Linked DNA regions of Homo sapiens: region 1 is linked to region 2. The links come from fine-mapping of genetic effects on plasma protein levels. A gene starts in region 2. The other region holds a variant in brackets. All regions are shown on one strand. Distances are from middle to middle.

Region 1 (9,800 bases), 28 kb after region 2:
CGGGAGATCATGTCTCACTTCACAGCCCTGCAGTGCCCTAGACTGGCTGAAAAACCTAAACTCTTTTTCATCCAGGCCTGCCAAGGTGAAGAGATACAGCCTTCCGTATCCATCGAAGCAGATGCTCTGAACCCTGAGCAGGCACCCACTTCCCTGCAGGACAGTATTCCTGCCGAGGCTGACTTCCTACTTGGTCTGGCCACTGTCCCAGGCT[A/G]TGTATCCTTTCGGCATGTGGAGGAAGGCAGCTGGTATATTCAGTCTCTGTGTAATCATCTGAAGAAATTGGTCCCAAGGTGAGAGCTCTTTTTTTTCTTCCATTTGTAATTAATTAGTTTTATTTATTTTTTATTTTACTCTCATTCAACACCTTTGGTAAGGGTGAGAGTTCTACGTTGTTCTATCCATGTACCTGTTCAACCATCTGCCTACCCTCCTGTTTATCTATTTATCCATCTATCCACCCATTCATCTATCCATCCATCTATCCACCCATTCATCTATCCATCCATCCATCTGTCCATCCATCCATCCATCCAGCAACCTTGTATTGAGTACCAGCCTGGACCTGGAAAGGAAGATACAGAGTTAAAAAAAGACAGAGTCCTTGCCCTCAGGTTGCTTACAAGCTAGAGGGATAGACAAACAAATAGACGGGGAAGGGCATCCCCAGCTGGTAAGTGCACATTGTGAAGTATAGGTGTTATGGGAACATGCAGAATGAGTACCTTGCCCAGATTTGAAGGATCAGAGGAGGCTTCTAGAAATGACAAATAGATGTTAGGTAAAGAATCAGGTGAAAGATGTGCTGGGCAGAGGGAATAGCATGAACAAAAGCATGGGGGCCTTTTATTTGTTCGTTTATTTATCACTCACTCTTACGTCCTGAGCACCTATGTGCTATCTTTGGACTTCTATTTGCCACTGCTCTGACAGCTTCCCTTCTGTCTCTGCCACATGCTGTCCTCTTGGCACCTTTAGCCATACCTAGAGGCCATGGGCTCCTCCATGAAAACGTCTCCAAAGTTGCCATCTCTGGCCCACTCATCTCTGAATTCCTGGGGGCAGAGACCCTGTTTCATTCAACTTTATATCCTCAGCCCCTGACCTGATATATTGTGAGCTTGTTAAACATTTGCTGGGCCAATGAATGACTTGCTTGAGCCTGTCTCATTAACATCCCGCTAGATATCCTACCTCTGTTTAGCCCTTGGACCTCACATTCAGCATGCATGTTTCTGAGCTCATCTTCCCAGCTCTCTCCAGGAGCTCCTACTCCTGAATTTCCATTTGAAGGAATGGCCATAGTGCTCTTCTGGGAATTCAGGATTGGAACCTTGAGTCAACTTTGCTTTTCTCTCTTCTTTACCAGCCCCTCCATTCTCATCACAGACATCAGAGGCTAATGTCTATGGCTTCAGGAACAAGGCAATATTTATTGAGAGCGTACTATGTGCTTACTGTACTGGGTACCGAACTGGGGACAGGGGGTGCAACTGTGTACAAGAGAGACAAAATCTGCTCTCCAGGGAGCTAAAAGTCCAGTGAAGGAAGGACAGATAATAAAAATATAAGTGAATATTTAAATTATTATTATTTTAAAAATTCAACAATATTAAAAGGAGACAGTATACATGCATGATTAAGCAATGTGTGGTTTTTTTTGGTACTCCAGAAATTTCTGTTATTTTTAATTGATACTTCATAACTACATATTTCAGGGTTATAATTTGATGTTTCAATACATATATGTGTTGTATAATGATCAAATCAGGGTAGTTAGTGTATCCATCACCTCATGCATTTATCATTTCTTTGTGGTGAGAACCTCTAAAAGCCTCTCTTGTAGCTATTTTGTAATATACAACACCTTACTGATTGATCGATTGATTTAAATATGGGATCTCACCATGTTGCCGAGGCTGGCCTTGAACTCCTAGGCTCAAGCAATCTTCCTGCCTTAGCCTTGTAAGTAGCTAGGATTATATGCTCAAACCACAGTGCCCAGCTCAGAATGCCTTACTGTTAACCATAGTCACCCCACTGTGCAGCAGAACACCAGAGGTTATTTCTCCTATCTAATTGTAACTTTGTACCCATTGACTAACCTCTCATCTTCCCTTCCCTCCTTCTCTCTCTCATCTTTGTAATTGCTGTTCTAATCACTGCTTCTATGACATCAACTTTTTAAACAAAGATTCCACATGAGTGAGAACAAGCAGATTTTTTCTGTGTCTTGCTTATTTCACTCTGGGCTCATTCATGTTGTCAGACATGTCAGGATTTTCTTTTTTTATGGCTGAATGGTATTCTGTCACGTATAAATATCACATTTTCTTTATCCATATATCCATTTTTGGACCCTTAGGTTGATTCCATATCTTGGCTATTGTAAATAATGCTGCAGTAAACTGGGAGTGCAGATATCTCTCTGACATATTGATTGCATTTTCTTTGTTTATATACTTAGTATGGGGATTGCTGGATCATATAGTATTTTTATTTTTCATTTTATGAGGAACTGGCATACTATTTTCCATAATGGCTGTACTAATTTTCAATACCACCAACAGTGTGTAAGTGTTCCCTTTTCTCCAGATCTTTGCCAATATGTGTTTTCTTTTGTTTCCTCGATAATAGCCATTCTAACTTGAGTGAAGTAGCATCTCACTGTGGGTTTTTTATTTTTATTTTTATTTTTTTTTAGACAACATCTTGCTCTGTCAGGCTGGAGTGCAGTGGCGCAATCTCAGCTCACTGCAGCCTCTGCCTCCTAGGTTCAAGCAATTCTTCTGCCTCAGTCTCCCGAGTAGCTGGGATCACAGGCATGTGCCACCACGCCTGGCTAATTTTTGTATTTTTAGTAGAGACAGGGTTTTACCACGTTGGCCAGGCTGGTCTGGAACTCCTGATCTCAAGTGATCCACCCACCTCAGCCTCCCAAAGTGCTGGTATTACAGGCGTGAGCCACGGCGCCCAGCTGTCACTGTGGTTTTGATTTGCATTTCCGTGATGATTAGTGATGTTGAGGGGTGGAAGCGGGTAAGTAGGAAAACTCCCACCACAACTATAGTGCTAGAGTGAAGTAGGGCTGAGACTGGGGTTGGGCCTTCCAAGGCGGAAGGAAGTCAGGGGTGGAGGCCAAGTTGGGCTGATTTTCCTGCTGCTGCTAAGAGAAAACCAATTAATGGAAGAAGGTTGGGGGTAGGGTTAAGGATAAGTATTTGTTGAGGCTCTCATGTATTGGATGATGAGAGGAATCATGCTATAGCTAAAATAAAGCCAATGTCACCAATGCGATTGTATAGAATTGCTTGGAGGGCTGCTGTGTTAGCATCTGCTTGGCCATGTCATCAGCCAATTAGTAGAAAAGATATAATTCCTACACCCTCTCATCTGATAAAGAGTTGGAAAATGTTGTTGGCAGTAACTAGAATTAATATTGTGGTGAGGAAAATAAGTAGGTATTTGAAAAACTGATTAATGTTCAGATCTGCCTTCATATATCATATTGAGAATTCTATAATAGATCAAGTGATAAATAGTGCTACTAGAATAAACATTATGGAGAATTAGTCTAGTTTGAAGCTTAATGAGAGTTTTAGGGTTTGGATTGTTATTCAATATCAGTTTGAGATGATGGTTTCTTGGTCTGTACACATAAATGTTGTGGGAATGAGGCTAATGGTGAAAGTGCATGCGACAGCTATTTTTACATAGTATGGATATGAGTTCTTTTTGTGAGGGTTGATAAAGGTAATAATAATTGGTAAGGTTAAGGAGATTAAGGTTATTATAGTAATGGAAAAATACATGATTATTACTTTTATTTGGAGTTGCACCAATATTTTTGGTTCCTAAGACCAATGGATAACTCTCATCCTCTAAAAGTTGAGAAAACTATGTTGTTAGGCATGGAGGCATGAGTTAGCAGTTCTTGCAAACTTTATCGGTAAATAAGAAGTTGCGGACTTCTATTATTAGACCACAATCTAACATTTTGATTAAACTATATTTACAAGGTATAAGTCCTATAATAATTTTAGGATTTAGAGATAGTAAGAGAATTGGTGAAAGGTGTATGAGTATTAGTATGTTTTCTCGTGTAAAGGAAGGTTTAATGCTGTTAATATAGTATGTTAGTGTTCCTTGTTGTGTTGTGACAAGTATATAGAGGGAATAAAGGGCTGTGATTAATATATTAAGTCCTATAAGCATGATGGTAGTGTTTGATCAGGAGAATGAAGCCGTTGTTACAAGGAGTTCTCCTACTAGATTAATAGTGGGGGGTAGGGCAAGGTTGGTGAGATTTGCTGTAAGTCATCAAAAGGTTACTAGTGGAAGTAATGTTTGACGTCCTCGAGAGAGTAATATGATTCAGCTGTGGATTCACTTGTAGTTTGAATTTGCTAGGCAGAATAGTAGGGACGAAGTAAGTCCATGGGGAATTATGAGGATAATTGCACTGGTAAAACTTCAGGGGGTTTGAATGAGGATAGCCACAGTAACAAGTACCATGTGGCTTACGGAGGAATGTGCAATAAGTGACTTTAGATCAGTTTGTCGTAGACAGATGGAGCTTGTCATAATATGCCTCATAAGGATAATATCAGGAAAGGATAGGCTATATGTTCTGTCAGAGGGCTGAGGATGAGGGTAAGTCGCATTTTGTGTAGCCGCCCAATTTTAGGAGCACTGCTGCAAGTACTATTGAGCCAGCCTTAGGTGCTTATACATGGGCTTTGGGAAGTCATAGGTGAAGTCAGTATAGGGGTATTTTTACTATGAAGGCCATTATACATGCCAATCACATGAGATTGTTGGATCAGGAGATTGGTAGTTCTTGATATTAAATGTTATTATTATCATGCTCAGTGAGCCTAGGATATTTTGGGCATAAATAAGTGTAATAAGTAGGGGGAGGGATCCCACTAGTGTGTAAAATAAGAGATATGTACCTGCATTGAGGCGTTCTGGTTGGTTACCCCATCGGGTGATAATAATTAAGATAGGGATAAGTGTAGCTTCAAAGAGAATATAAAATATAATTAGTTCTGTGGCTGTAAATGCTATGATTAGAAAAATTTGTAGGGAAATTAATATGGAAATACAGGGTTTTTTCCATAGGGGTGATTCACTGGAGAGGTGGTACTGGCTTGCTATAGTTATAAGAGGTAGTAGTCAGGCTGTTAAGATTAGAAGGGGTGATGTTAGCGGATCAGAGGAGAAAGTTAATGAGAAGTTGAATAGATTGTCGTTGAATTAGTTAAAGAATAATAGGGCAATGAAGCTGGTGATTAGGCTGTGGGTAGCCATATTGATTCAAATTGTATAATTTTTAGAGAGTCATGTTATTGGTAGTAGTATAATTGTAGGAATAGTTATTTTTAGCATTGAAGTAAATTTAGGTTATGTATGTAGTCTAAGCCATATATGTTGGAAATTGAAAGTAGCAAAGCAAGGCCTACCCTGGCTTTGCAGGCAGCAAATACTGGTAGAGTAATGGGTATTACATTTGCTAGGGTGAAGTGTATATTTAAAGCTATAAGGGTATTTACTATGAATAATGATAATATTATTCCTTCTAGGCATAGGAGGGATGATATTAGGTGGGACTGATAGACTAATACCCCCAGAAGTGATATGATAAATGCTAATATGATACTTATGTAAATAGAGGGCATTTGGTAAGTATGTTCTATCATAATCTAATGAAATCATTTATTTTGCCTTAAACTACTTATTTTTTTCTTATACCTGTGGACCATTTGTATGTCTTCTTTTGAGAAATGTCTGTTAAAGTCTTTTGCCCATTTTTAAATGGGGTTATTTGTTTTTTTGCTGTTGAGTTATTTAAGTTCCTTATGTATTCTAAATATTAACTCCTTGTGAGATGTATAATTTGCAAATTTTTTTCCTATTTTGTAGGTTGTCTCTTCCCTCGGTTTTTTTTTTTTTTTTTTTTTTTTTGCCGTGCAAAAGGGTTTTAATTTGATGTAAACTCATTTGTCTATTTTTGCTTTTGTTGTCTGTGCTTTTGAAGTCTTGTTTTAAAAATCCTTGCCCAACCCAATGTCATGATATGTTTGCCCTGTTTTCTTGCAGCAGCTTCATAGTTTCAGGTTTTACATTTAAGTCTTACACATTTTGAGTTGGTTTTTGTTTATGGTGAGAGGTAAGTGGTTAGTCTCATTTTTCTGTGTATGGATATTCAATTTTCCCAGCACCGTTTTTTGAAGAGATTCTCTTTTACCTATTGTGTGTTCTGGGCACCTTTGTCAAAAATCAGTTGGCTGTAGGTGTGTGAATTTATTTCTGGGATCTATATTCTGTTCTATTGATCTATGTGTCTGTTTTTATACCACTACCATGCTGTTTTGGTAACTCTAGATTTGTAGTATATTTTGAAGTCAGGTGGTGGGATGCCTCCAGTTTTGTTCTTTTTGCTCAGCATTGCTTTCACTATTTGGGGTCTTTTGTGGTTCCATATACATTTTAGGGTTTTTTTCCCTATTTATGTGAAGAATGTAATTTTTTTGTTTGTTTTTGTTTTGTTTTGTTTTAGAGATGGGGTCTTGTTATGTTGTCCAGGCTAGACTTGAACTCCTGGGCTCAAGCAATCCTCCCACCTCAGACTCCTGAGTAGCTAGGACTACAGGCATTTGCCACTGCACTTGGCTTGTCACTGGTATTTTGATAGGGACTGCATTAAATCTGTAGGTCACCTTGGGTAGTATGGTCATTTTAACAAGATTATTCTTCTAACCCATGAACACGAGATATCTTTCCATTTATTTGTGTCCTCTTCACTTTCTTTCATCAATGTTTTATAGTTTTCAGTGTTTAATATTTAAGTTAATGATATTTTAATTGTTTAATATTTATTTAATAATTTTATTATTCAATTATTATTTAATATTAATTTAAATAATATTTAAATTAATAAGAAAAAATTAGCCAGGTGTGGTGGCATGCACCTGTAGTCCTAGCTATTAGGGAGTCTGAAGTGGGAGGATTGCTTAAGCCCAGAAGTTTGAGGCTGTAGTGAACTACAATCGCATTACCGCATTCTAGCCTGGGCAACAGAGCGAGATCCTGTCTCTAACAAAAAGAGGCAATTTCAGGAAGTGATCCCTGCCATGAACAAATCAAAACAGGATAATGGTAGTTTCTTGGTGGAGGTAATATTTCAGGTGAGACTAAATGATAAGAAGGAAACAGACACAGGAAGATTTGGGAATAGAGAGCAGGTGCAAAGCAAGATGCAGGGATTGAGAGCAGGTAAGGGCCTGCATCCCTTCCCTGAAAAATAGTGATAGTTAAGGATGAGGGGATGAGAGTAGTCATACTAATACTAAAAATGATGGTCAGCAGAACAGTGTAGCCAGTGTTCTAAGTGCTTGACCCAATATACATCCTTTAATGCTCTCGGCAACCCCTAAGATGGGGACTGTTATGGTTCCTATTTTAGAGCTGGGAAAACCGAGGCATGGAGCAGTGAGTAACCAGCCTAAGAGCACACAATGAATGAATGATGGAGCCACAATTTAAAATTGAATGTGTTTTCAGAACCTGTGCTTGCTTCCAGTGATATGTATTGCCTACCCTGAGAACGTTCTGCTAAATGCTATATGTCCTGCAAGCCCAGGCTCAAATGCTACCATCTGCATGAAGCCTTCTCTCTCCCTCCCAACCAGAAATGCATTCTCCTCTGAACTTGCAGTGGAACCTTGACCTTTCATTTGGTGTTGACCACATTCTGCCTTGTGTTATGAATATTGTGTATATGCCATCCTCGGTAAATGTTTCATATCTGCATTCTAAGTGGTTAACTTCAGGAATTGTGTCATGTCTATCTTTGTATCTCTCCCAAGACTACAGATAGAGAGGGCATTGTTGGTATCTGTGGCATCTGCTGCATATTTGTTGATCTAAGACCTGGTACATGGTACCTGGTGTCTTTTCTAAGACCTGGTGTGTGGTTTCTACCTCCTGACTGAAAAAAGTTTCTTCTCTGGGCCAGGCACAGTGGCTCATGCCTGTAATCCCAGCACTTTGGGAGGCCGAGGTGGGTGGATCACCTGAGGTCAGGGGTTCGAGACCAGCCTGGGCAAGCAATATGGTGAAACCCCATCTTTACTAATTAGCCAATTGTGGTGGCAGGCACCTGTAATCCCAGCTACTCGGGAGGCTGAGGCATGAGAATCACTTGAATCCAGGAGGTGGAGGCTGCAGTGAGCTGAGATCACACCACTGCACTCCAGCCTGGGCGACAGAGTGAGACTCCGTAAAAAAAAATTTTGTTTTCTTCTTTGTTGCAGACATGAAGACATCTTATCCATCCTCACTGCTGTCAACGATGATGTGAGTCGAAGAGTGGACAAACAGGGAACAAAGAAACAGATGCCCCAGCCTGCTTTCACACTAAGGAAAAAACTAGTATTCCCTGTGCCCCTGGATGCACTTTCATTATAGCAGAGAGTTTTTGTTGGTTCTTAGACCTCAAACGAATCATTGGCTATAACCTCCAGCCTCCTGCCCAGCACAGGAATCGGTGGTCTCCACCTGTCATTCTAGAAACAGGAAACACCGTGTTTTCTGACACAGTCAATTCTGATTTTCTTTTTCTTTTGCAAGTCTAAATGTTAGAAAACTTTCTTTTTTTTGGAGATAGTCTCATTCTGTCACCCAGACTGGAGTGCAGGGGGGCAATCACGGCTCACTGTAGTCTCGACCTCCCAGGCTCAAGCTGTCCTCCCGCCTCAGCTTCCCAAGTAGCTGGGACCACAGGTGTGTACCACCGTGCCCGGATTTTTTTTATTCTTTATTTTTTGTAGAGATGGAGGGATCTCACTTTGTTGCACAGGCTGGTTTCAAACTCCTAGGCCCAAGTGATCCTCCCACCTCTGTCCCCAAAATACTGGGATTATAGGCACGAGCCACCACACCTGGCCAGAAAACTTTCATTATTGAAGACTTGGATTGTAGCCTTGGTTTTGGATGTCTATTCTGAAGACAGAGTAATTGGCTTTGGTTTGTGCAGGTACTTTTTCTTTGAGACAGAGTCACTCCGTCACCTGGGCTGGAGTGCAGTGGTGGGATCACTGTTCACTGCAGCCTTGACCTCCCAGGTTCAAGCGATCCTCCCACCTCAGCCTCCCAAGTAGCTGAGACTACAGGTGTGTGTCCATGCACAGCTAACTTTTTATTTTTTTTGTGGAGATGGGGTTTCACTATGTTGCCTAAGCTGGTCTCAAACTCCTGGGCTCAAGCGATCCTCCCACCTCAGCTTCTCAAAGTTCTGGGACTACAGGCATGAAATACTGTGCCTGGCCTGGGGACCAGGTGCATTTTAAGGTTCCTTGGTGTTCAAAAACCACGTTCTTAGCCTAGATTGAGCTTAGATTGCCTCTCTAGACAACTACCCCTTAGTTATAATTCTGTGTCCCCTCTGCATGCCCTTAAACATTGGACAGTGAGGTCACAGTCCACCCACCCTCTCTCTGATCTCCCCCTTCCTAAGACTTCTCTTTTGCACATCTAGTGAGGTGAAAATTTGGTCTATGCCAGGCCCATTTCCTGCTTTTGTGTAAGGAAGGTGCTCACATAGGAAGTTTTTATTTGGTTAGAGACAGGTTTCCCTGTAGGAAGATGATGGCTCATTTACACTCAGCTGCTCTGCAAGCAGAAACTTTACAACCTGATGTCATATTCCATTTTGGACTGGGTGCGGTGACTCATGCCTGTAATCCCAGTACTCTGGGAAGCCAAGGCAGGCAGATCACTTGAGGTCAGGAGTTCGA
Region 2 (9,683 bases):
CTCCCAAAGTGCTGGGATTACAGGTGTGAGCCACTGTGCCTGGCCAGGACTTGTCTTTTTCTTTTCTTTTTTTTTTTGAGAAGGAGTCTTGCTCTGTAGCCCAGGCTGGAGTGTGATGGCGTGATATCCGCTCACCGCAACCTCCACCTCCTGCCTTCAAGCGATTATCCTGCCTCAACCTCCCGAGCAGCTAGGATTACAGGTGTGTGCCACCACGCCCAGCTAATTTTTTGTATTTGTAGTAGAGACAGCGTTTCACCATCTTGGCCAAGCTGGTCTCGTGATCCGCCTGCCTCAGCCTCCCAAAGTGCTGGGATTACAGGCGGGAGCCACTGCACCTGGCCCCAGGACTTGTCTTTCTTAAGCACAGAAGTTCTCTGAATGATGCCTAGGACATGGAAAGGACATTTTAATACATTTGCTAATCAAAGCATCATAAATCTTGCTTTTTTTCCCCATAGATAAAACATCTTTCTAAGACTCTGTACCTCTTTCCAGAGTGCTGCACATTTGAGTTAGCTTAATTATAGTGTAGTGACTTTGATCCAAACTTGCTGGTTTAAATCTTGGCTCTTCCAGCCGCTCACTGTGTGACCTTGGGCAAATTAATTAACCTTTCTGTGCCTTAGTTTTCACATGTTAAAGCAGCAGTCATAGTAATAGTATTTATCTTACAGTGTTGTTGGGATGGTGAAATGAGTAAATATTTGTAAATGCCCTGGCACATGGTAGTTGCAATATTAGTGTGCAGTATTGTTTTTATGATTAGAAATAATGTCTTCAAAGTCTCACTTTCCTGCTGGTTTGAATGTGCTGTGAGAACACATACTGTCAGTTTTGCCTACCACAAATTTGTTGAGTCTCTTGCAGGTACCTCCAAATGGGCTTGTAATTCACCATCCCCACTTTTCTTTTTTTTTTCCTTTCTTTTTCTTTTTATTTCTTAATTTCTCCCACAAAGACTGAAAGTGAATCCCCACTTTTCTTTTATCTTTTAAAAATTTTATTTGTGGGCCGGGCACGGTGGCTCCATGCCTGTAATCCCAGCACTTTGGGAGGCCAAGGAGGGTGGATCACAAGCTCAGGAGTTCGAGACCAGCCTGGCCAACATGGTGAAACCTCGTCTCTACTAAAAATACAAAAAATTAGCCGGGCGTGGTGGCGCATGCTTGTAATCCCAGCTACTCGGGAGGTTGAGGCAGGAGAATCACTTGAACACAGGAGGCAGAGGTTGCGGTAAGTGGAGATCGCTCCATTGTTTATTTGCATGTGGACATAAGAAAGGGTTAACATGGCCGACAACTATTTCATGAGCTTTTTGGCTTTATTTGAAAAGTGAAGTGTGTTTGGGGAAGGAGTTGGTTAGGAAAACAGATGCTTCCCTTTTTGACTTACCAAGGAAATGGAGATCCAAAGGAAAGCCTGAAGCACTTTGTGGCTTCCACGGGTTCGTTTCTAGGAAGCTTTTGCTTTACCTGGGGAAACCCCAAGCTCTACAGTGAGAAAGTTGTAAATTAGCCTTTAGGAGACGCTGTTTGTCAAAGTTATCTTAACCCTGGAAAAGGGGAGGGAAAAAGGCAGATAAGCAGTGATGACATCAGCAGGAAACTAGTATCAGGCTACCCAGTCCTGAAGATTCAGTTTTCACTTAAACAACCAGCAAGTCTTGAAGTCTCTTCCCAAGCAAATGGGAGCTTCTTTGGACCTTGGAGCACACAGAGGATTCTACTTTCTTTAAAACTTTGTTTTCAGGCAATTTCCCTGAGAACCGTTTACTTCCAGAAGATTGGTGGAGCTTGATCTGAAGGTATGTAATTAACAACCCTTCTTACTCCAGAGTCTCATGCTTGAATCTTTTCCTTTGCTTCATGGCTTCGTGTTGTAGAAACTTGCAAAAACTTGTCAGCAATGGCACTATTTTTTCTTAGATTTCTTTGTCATGCCTGGGAAAACAAAAGTTAAAAAATCCGGAAGCCTCCAACATAGCCTTTTACCGGGGCAGAAATATGTTAGCTCACAGAGACAAAGTTTGGTAGACTCACTAAAACTAGAGATCAGAATTGTCAAGAAACCACAAGGCAAATGCTAGATGCGGTAGAATAGAAAGGTGTCTCCAATAAACCACTCATTTGACCTCAGGGCTAGTAGCAGGGAAGATCCCCTGGATTATCACATTAAAAATGACATTTTTTTGTTTCTTTTAACACCAAAAGTAATGTGTATGCTCACATATGCATAAAATTTGAGAAATTCAATTGGAAGCCCAGAAGGAAATTTGTATTATCTATAGTTATGTCACCTCGATATAACCACTGTTTGTTATGGAGGTTTTGATTTTTGCTGTGTCTTCCTTCCTTTATTTATTTATTTATTTATTTATTTATTTATCTATTTATTTATTTGAGACGGAGTCTCCCTCTTTCACCCTCCAGCACTCAAGCTGGAGTGCAGTGGCACAATCTTGGCTTACTGCAACTTCCGCCTCCCAGGTTCAAGCAATCCTCCCATCTCAGCTTCCTATGAAGCTGGGACCACAGGCATACACCACCAAGCCCAGCTAATTTTTGTATTTTTTGTAGAGACGGGGTTTCACCGTGTTGCCCAGGCTTGTCCCGAATTCCTGGCCTCACAGTGATCCACCTGCCTCAGTCTCCTGAAGTGCTTCTCTGATTATAATGAAATTTAGTATGTAGAATACCATAGTTTATAGACTAGTCAGATGGAAACATTGACTCATGTAATTTTTATCTTCCTTCGCTGATTTGAGCAACTCTTGTCTAAAATCACCCTTTCCTTCTGAGGTCTAGGAGGTTTTTTTGTTGTTGTTTTGTTTTGTTTTTGAGGCAGGGTCTTGCTCTGTCACCCAGGGTGGAGTGCAGTGGCACAATCATGGCTCACTGGAACCTCCATCCCCGGGGCTCAAATGATCCTTCTGCTTCAGCCCTCTGAGTAGTTGGGACCACAGGCGTGCACCACCATGCCTGGCTAATTTTTGTATTTTTTGTAGAGATGGGGTTTTACCACGTTGCCCAGTCTGGTCTTGAACTCCTGGCCTCAAGTGATCCACCCGCCTTGGCCTCCCAAAGTGCTGGGATTATAGGCGTAAGCCATGACACCCCACCTGTTCCTTCCTTTATAAAGTATTTTCTTGTTTCTAAAAATAGCCAAGTTCTGCATATTGACTACATACCTCAAGTGCTTATAGAATAAATAGTATTACAATGAAAATTTTATCACTGCATTGCTCCTCTGATTATGATGAAATTTAGTATAGAGAATAGCATAGTTTATAAACTGATCAGATGGAAACATTGACTCATGTAATTTGTTTTTTTTTAGTGAAAACAAGTTTATTAGAGAAGTAAAGAAACAAAAGAATGGCTACTCCATAGACAGAGCAGCCGACTCATGTAATTTTTAACTTCCTACACTGATTTGAGCAACTCTTGTCTAAAACCACCCTTTCCTCCTGAGGTCTAGGATATTTTATTTATTTATTTTTCTTTTTGAAACAGGGTCTCACTCTGTCACCCAGGGTGAAGTGCAGTGGCATGATCATGGCTCACTGCAACCTGTGCTCCCCAGGCTCAAATGATCCTTCCATCCTCGGCCTCCTGAGTAGTTGGGACCACAGGCATGTGCCACCATGCCCTGATAATTTTTTGTATTTTTAGTAGAGACCAGGTCTCGCCATGTTGCTCAGGCTTGAGGTCTAGGATTATGCCTTCCCTTTCTGTAAGATAAAGGCCTGCCCTCTTACAGGTAGCAGTCTGAAGTTAAGATGTAACACACATACCTCACGGTACCTTGCTGTCTTTGGGTTGATAGATCATAAGGATAACCCTGCCTCCCCCAGATTGCTTTGTGTCTAAAACTTAAAGCATAGAGCCAAGTGCTATTTCTGCCACGTGCTGGAAATGAATGTAAGGGCTCCAATCAGGCTACCAGGCTTGAGAAAAATTGTGCTGTGTCCCTCCATCTTAACTTTCTCTCTCTGGGAACATTTTGATTTGGGAGAAATCAAGGTGAATTGAATTCCAATATAAGCACCCTCCAAGTTTCCTAAAAAGTAACTTGCAAGTGTTGGGGAAAAGTTTTCTGGGCTGTTGCTTTTTGAAGTAGCCTCGCCGTAATTTTTATTTTTCAGCACTTCTAGGAAAGTCTAATGCCCAGAACGGAGAAGGTTGTGGTGAGGGGAGGGCCTGGGAAGTCAGGGGGCCATATGTCCTCACTCTCTAACTCCCTGCCCCACCTCTCTGTCCCTTTCAGGCTGGCCATGAAATCTCAAGGTCAACATTGGTATTCCAGTTCAGATAAAAACTGTAAAGTGAGCTTTCGTGAGAAGCTTCTGATTATTGATTCAAACCTGGGGGTCCAAGATGTGGAGAACCTCAAGTTTCTCTGCATAGGATTGGTCCCCAACAAGAAGCTGGAGAAGTCCAGCTCAGCCTCAGATGTTTTTGAACATCTCTTGGCAGAGGATCTGCTGAGTGAGGAAGACCCTTTCTTCCTGGCAGAACTCCTCTATATCATACGGCAGAAGAAGCTGCTGCAGCACCTCAACTGTACCAAAGAGGAAGTGGAGCGACTGCTGCCCACCCGACAAAGGGTTTCTCTGTTTAGGTGAGGACGGGTCTGTGGTGGAGATGGGAGGATCTCCCATCTAGTGTTCATTCTGGCCATTGGGCTTTGAAAGGAAGCTGCAGTTAAGATCTTTTGGTTATCTACCTCCTTGGATGATAAACCAGGAGATTCTAAACCTCCTTCTCAGCCTCTGATGCTAATGAGATAAGAGTTGGGAGGTCAGCAAAGCTTCAAGACCAAGCCCTGGGCCCAGAGGTGGCTTCCCTTTGTTTTGCTTCTCACTAGCAGTGAAGCCCACCTCAGTGTGGCAGAGCCCGTGTTTTCCCTGCTTACCAGCGGCTACACGTGCAGATCTTCTCCCTCCTGGGATCCACTAGTCTGTCTACCTGTTTCCCGGGGTCTTGAGAAGAGAGTAATGCATACTTGGAGTGAAATAAGCAAGATGAAAAAAGAGATGTGTTTCTGGGGTAGGGAGGGATGTCATTTATGCCATGTCTAGTTATAGAAATTTCTATATTTTTGGGTGGGAATCCAGAAAGGTAAAAACAGGCATTTTGCCCAAAGAGGTAAAATTTAGGCATTGGTCTTATCATGGATGACAGCGTTTTATTTTTATTTTGAGACAGAGTCTCGCTCTGTCACTCAGGCTGGAGTGAAGTGGCACCATCTCAGCTCACTGCAACCTCCGCTTCCTGGGTTCGAGCGATTCTCCTGCCTCAGCCTCCTGAGTAGCTGGGACTACAGGCACCCACCACCACACCTGGCTAATTTTTGTATTTTTAGTAGAGACAGGGTTTCCAACATGTTGGCCAGGCTGGTCTGGAACTCCTAGCCTCAAGTGATCCACGCACCTCGGCCTCCCAAAGTGCTGGGATTATAGGTGTGAGCCACTGTGCCAGGCTGATGACAGTGTTTAAAATTGTTCACTGACATAGTGTCCACATCAGAGAACCTCACGAAGAGGAGCCTTTGGAGGGTGTTTTATGGTCTCTGCGATTAGAACACATTAAGCCTTAGCGGTGGAACTGGCTTCCAGAACCTGAGTTGCCCTTGAGTCAGTGGAAGGAATGATGAATTCCAGAAATCCATATTTCCATTCTGCTGGCTAAACATCTGAGGGACAGTCTCTGACACATAGGGGTGTTAGTATGTGGATGAAATCCTCACTGTTTCTGGTTGTGGATTATATCTCGAAGCTGGGGTAGTTTTCTTCCCTTTTCAATATACAACCGACTGTACCTTGGCTGGCCTGGGGTCCTATCTACCAAGGGCCTGTAAAGTAAGCCTGAATTTCTTGATGGAATCAGGAGATGGGAAGGCATGTCAGAATTGTGTTTTATGCCTTTTTTTTTTTAAATATGCCTTCTTAGTGTGGTGAAAAACAGCATTAGACTTGGAGTCAGAAGGCCTGCTTCTACCACTTACTGTGTTATCTTTATTTAAACAAGTCACTTAGAAACTGAAAGTTTTCATTTTTTGAACCTATAAATGGGATTAATAATTGTCTACACATAGAGTTGATCATTCAAATGACAGAAAACATTTATGAAAGCACTTGATTGATTATGGTGTCCTCCACAAGTGTAAGGCTTTATTTGTCATTTTGGGTGTGTGTCTTAGAAACCTGCTCTACGAACTGTCAGAAGGCATTGACTCAGAGAACTTAAAGGACATGATCTTCCTTCTGAAAGACTCGCTTCCCAAAACTGAAATGGTGAGTGGGTCATACAGAATGGGTCTGTGTGAGCACTGTCTTAATCAATGATTAGAAAGATGCTGGAAAGGGTTTTTAGGGAGATTTATTTTTTATGGGAGACAGTATCATACAATGGTTACGAACATTGGCTTTGGTGCTGGATGAGCCTAGATTCTGGTCCTGATTCTAATTCTAAACCCATGCTGTGAGGCCAATGATTGAACTTTTCTGAGTCTCTATTTTCTTAGACGTAAAATTGTGGGCAATCGTATGACTTCCTTCTAGGATTGTTGGGAGAATTAGCTGGAATAATGTTCATGAAGCATTAGCATGAGGCCAATATTTGGTATAGCATTCAGTAAATGCTCACTTCTGTTGGAATCTGTTGTGTTTTGTTTTTGTTTTTGTTTTTTTTTGAGACGAAGTCTTGCCTTGTTGCCCAGGCTGGAGTGCAGTGGCATGATCTCAGCTCACTGCAACCTCCACCTCCTGGGTTCAAGCCATTCTCCTACCTCAGCCTCCCTAGTAGCTGGGATTACAGGCATGCACCACCATGCCCAGCTAATTTTTGTATTTTTAGTACAGACAGGGTTTCACCCTGTTGGGCAGGCTGGTCTAGAACTCCTGACTTCAAGTGATCTGCCTGCCTTGGCCTCCCAAAGTGTTGGGATTACAGGTGTGAGTCACCGCACCTGGCCTTGTCCAGTTTTTTCTTTCAAGTGCCTTTTAATCTGTAGGTTAGATTTCCTCCCTGCCCCCAAATCTCTTTCTTTTTCTTAAAATGTATCTGTTGAAGAATCTCTGGGCGGTTGGCCTGTGGAGTTTCTCACAGGCTGAGTTTTGCTGATTGCACACTCGTGGTGCAGTTTGGCATGTTCCTCTGTCCTCTGCATTTCCTGCAGACTGGCAGCTGAATCCAGAGGCTTCATCAGACTCAGGTCAGATCCGTTTGGCAAGACTATAGGTAGTCTTGTTTTTTCATCAGGAGGTACCTGATTTTCTCTCTCTTTTTCTTTGATATTAGCAACTGTTGATGTTCAACCATTTTATATATTGAATTTTGAGGGGTTGCAAAAATGGAGATATTAGAATTTTTTTTTTTTTTTGAGATGGAGTCTCACTCTTGTCACCCAGGCTGAAGTGCAATGGCACAATTTCAGCTCACTACAACCTCTGCCTCCTGGGTTCAAGCGATTCTCCTGCCTCAGCCTCCTGAGTAGCTGGGATTACAGCAGCCTGCCACTACGCCTGGCTAACTTTTTGTATTTTTAGTAGAGATAGGGTTTCACCATATTGGCTAGGCTGGTCTGGAACTCCTGACTTTAGGTGATCCACCCGTCTCGGCCTCCCAAAGTGCTGAGATTACAAGTGTGAGCCACCATACCCGGCCACATATTAGAATTGTATCATTTCGTTTTCCCTTCATCCATTATTTGGTTACCCAGTGATACAGCTTATATGTGAATCCTTGATTCTTTTCTTTCAGTTATTTTTTTTTTTTTTTTGAGACGGTGTCTCACTTGGTCATCCAGGCTGGAGTTCAGTGGTGTGATCTTGGCTCACTGCAACCTCTGCCTCCCAGGTTCAGGTGATTCTCCTGCCTCAGCCTCCTGAATATCTGGGATTACAAGCAGGCACCACCATGCCTGTCTAATTTTTGTATTTTTAGTAGAGACAGGGTTTCATTTGGCCAGGTTGGTCTCAAATTCTTGACCTCAAGTGATCTACCTGCCTCAGCCTCCCAAAGTTCTGGGGATTACAGGCATGAACCACTGTGCTTTGCCTAGTTATCCAGTTTTTAAGTTAATTGGTATCTTATCATTCTCTGAAGGTGACCCATTACAAAATATATATAAATTTAAACTCATGGATTTAAACATATGTGAGGTATTTCAATCTACTGCAATTATTATCCTTACTGAAGTTCAAACTGAGGCTGGGCATGGTGGCTCATGCCTGTAATCCCAGCACTTTGGGAGTCTGAGGTGGACAGGTCACTTGAGCCTCAGGAGTTTGAGACTAGACTGGGCAACATGACAAAACCCGGTCTCTACAAAAAATACAAAAATTAGCTGGGTGTGGTGGCGTGCACCTGTAGTCCCAGCTCCTCAGGAGGCTGACATGGGAGGATCGCTCGAGCCCAGAGAAGTCAAGGCTGCAGTGAGCAATGGCTGTGCCATTGCACTCCAGCCTGGGTAACAGAGTGAGACCCTGTCTCAAAAAAATAGTTCAATTGTCCCATTTTTTCCCAGGGGATACATCTTCAGTTTGGTTCCTAAGTCATTTTGACATGACCTTAGTAGTCTTTGATGGCTTCTTTACTATCTGGCAAAAATATCCCAGGTTCATCTTGTATATTTTCTACCCAGTCCTGGAATCTCTCATTTCTCCCAAAAATCCTGACTTCTTTTAATGAGAGATGTCATTTCAAGACCACAAACTCGATGCTGGCATGCTCATTGCTTTTGAGTAAATATATATGCACACACTACGTATATACACATATGTATACACACACACACACACATGCACACACACACATGACCTAAAGGTTCAGTAATTCTTGGAGAATTTTAAAAATCAGGCGATTTTGTTTTAGGGAATTCTTTTTTATAAAACATTGTAAGGATCTTCTGCTTTTGCCGTAAAATTTCAGTGCCCACATTTGCAGTGGTACAAAGCAATTACCTGCTCAAATGGTAGCATTATACCTTAAATACAGAATTTCTCAAAGTCAGAGGAGATTCCTGTAGTTTGACAAGCGCTCCAGGTGGTTTTCATAACATTCTCTCCCAAGTTGGGGCATCCGCTCACAAATTTTCCAGTGTCTAGGTTTATACATAAAATGAGACCACTTTTTATTGTTATACCCCGTCCTATGTTAGGGACTCTCTGAACAATATGAGGTGGCGGGTGAGGGACGAGAGAAAGGTCATTTGTTAAAGCAATCTCTGATATTCGAAACACTGAGTGTTAGTTTTCAAACAAGAAAAGCTGGAAAATGTTTTTTTTTCTCTTTTGCTTGCACAGGTTCTAGAACTCTACTTGAAGGCATCTGTGGCTACAGAATTATTATTATTATTATTATTATTATTTTTAGACAGAGTTTCACTCTTGTTGCCCAGTCTGGAGTGCAATGGTGCCATCTCGGCTCACTGCAACCTCTGCCTCCTGGGTTCAAGTGATCCTCCTGCCTCAGCCTCCTGAGTAGCTGGGATTACAGGCGCCCACCACCACACCCAGCTAATTTTTGTATTTTTAGTAGAGGTGGGGTTTCACCATGTTGGCCAGGCTGGTCTTGAACTCCTGACCTCAGGTGATCCACCTGCCTCAGCCTCCCAAAGTGTTGGGATTACAGGTATGAGCCACTGTGCCTGCCCAGAATTATTTTTATGGTCAGAAG

Alleles and levels. Positions count from the first base shown, and alleles are read on the strand shown. Strength reflects both the effect of a copy and how common the allele is.
For the plasma level of the protein whose gene starts at base 1,640 in region 2, A is the low allele of the variant in region 1 and G is the other (weak association).

What was found. A credible set is the group of variants that fine-mapping cannot tell apart. PIP is the posterior inclusion probability: the model's chance that the variant is causal. The UK Biobank Pharma Proteomics Project read protein levels with antibody pairs (Olink). The fine-mapping took linkage between variants from a reference panel, not from the people measured, so its PIPs are less certain.
Region 1: its variant is the best candidate, but not a certain one, in a credible set for the plasma level of the CASP10 protein (UK Biobank, PIP 0.63). The variant lies in the coding sequence of CASP10. If it changes the protein, the assay may bind it differently, which can mimic a change of level.

What each region holds. Positions count from the first base shown.
Region 1 is chr2:201,209,270-201,219,069 of GRCh38, forward strand. CASP10 (caspase 10) reads left to right here. Exons shown (of 10, transcript NM_032977.4): 9 at 1-293; 10 at 8,319-9,800. The coding sequence ends at 8,472. It also overlaps the pseudogene MTND5P25, the pseudogene MTND4P23 and the pseudogene MTND4LP13. Among named protein-coding and RNA genes, the nearest start is that of CASP10, 31 kb to the left of the region's middle. The variant A/G (reference allele first, on the strand shown) is at 215.
Region 2 is chr2:201,181,502-201,191,184 of GRCh38, forward strand. It overlaps CASP10 (caspase 10), which reads left to right and starts at 1,640. Exons shown (of 10, transcript NM_032977.4): 1 at 1,640-1,807; 2 at 4,270-4,623; 3 at 6,205-6,298. The coding sequence starts at 4,277.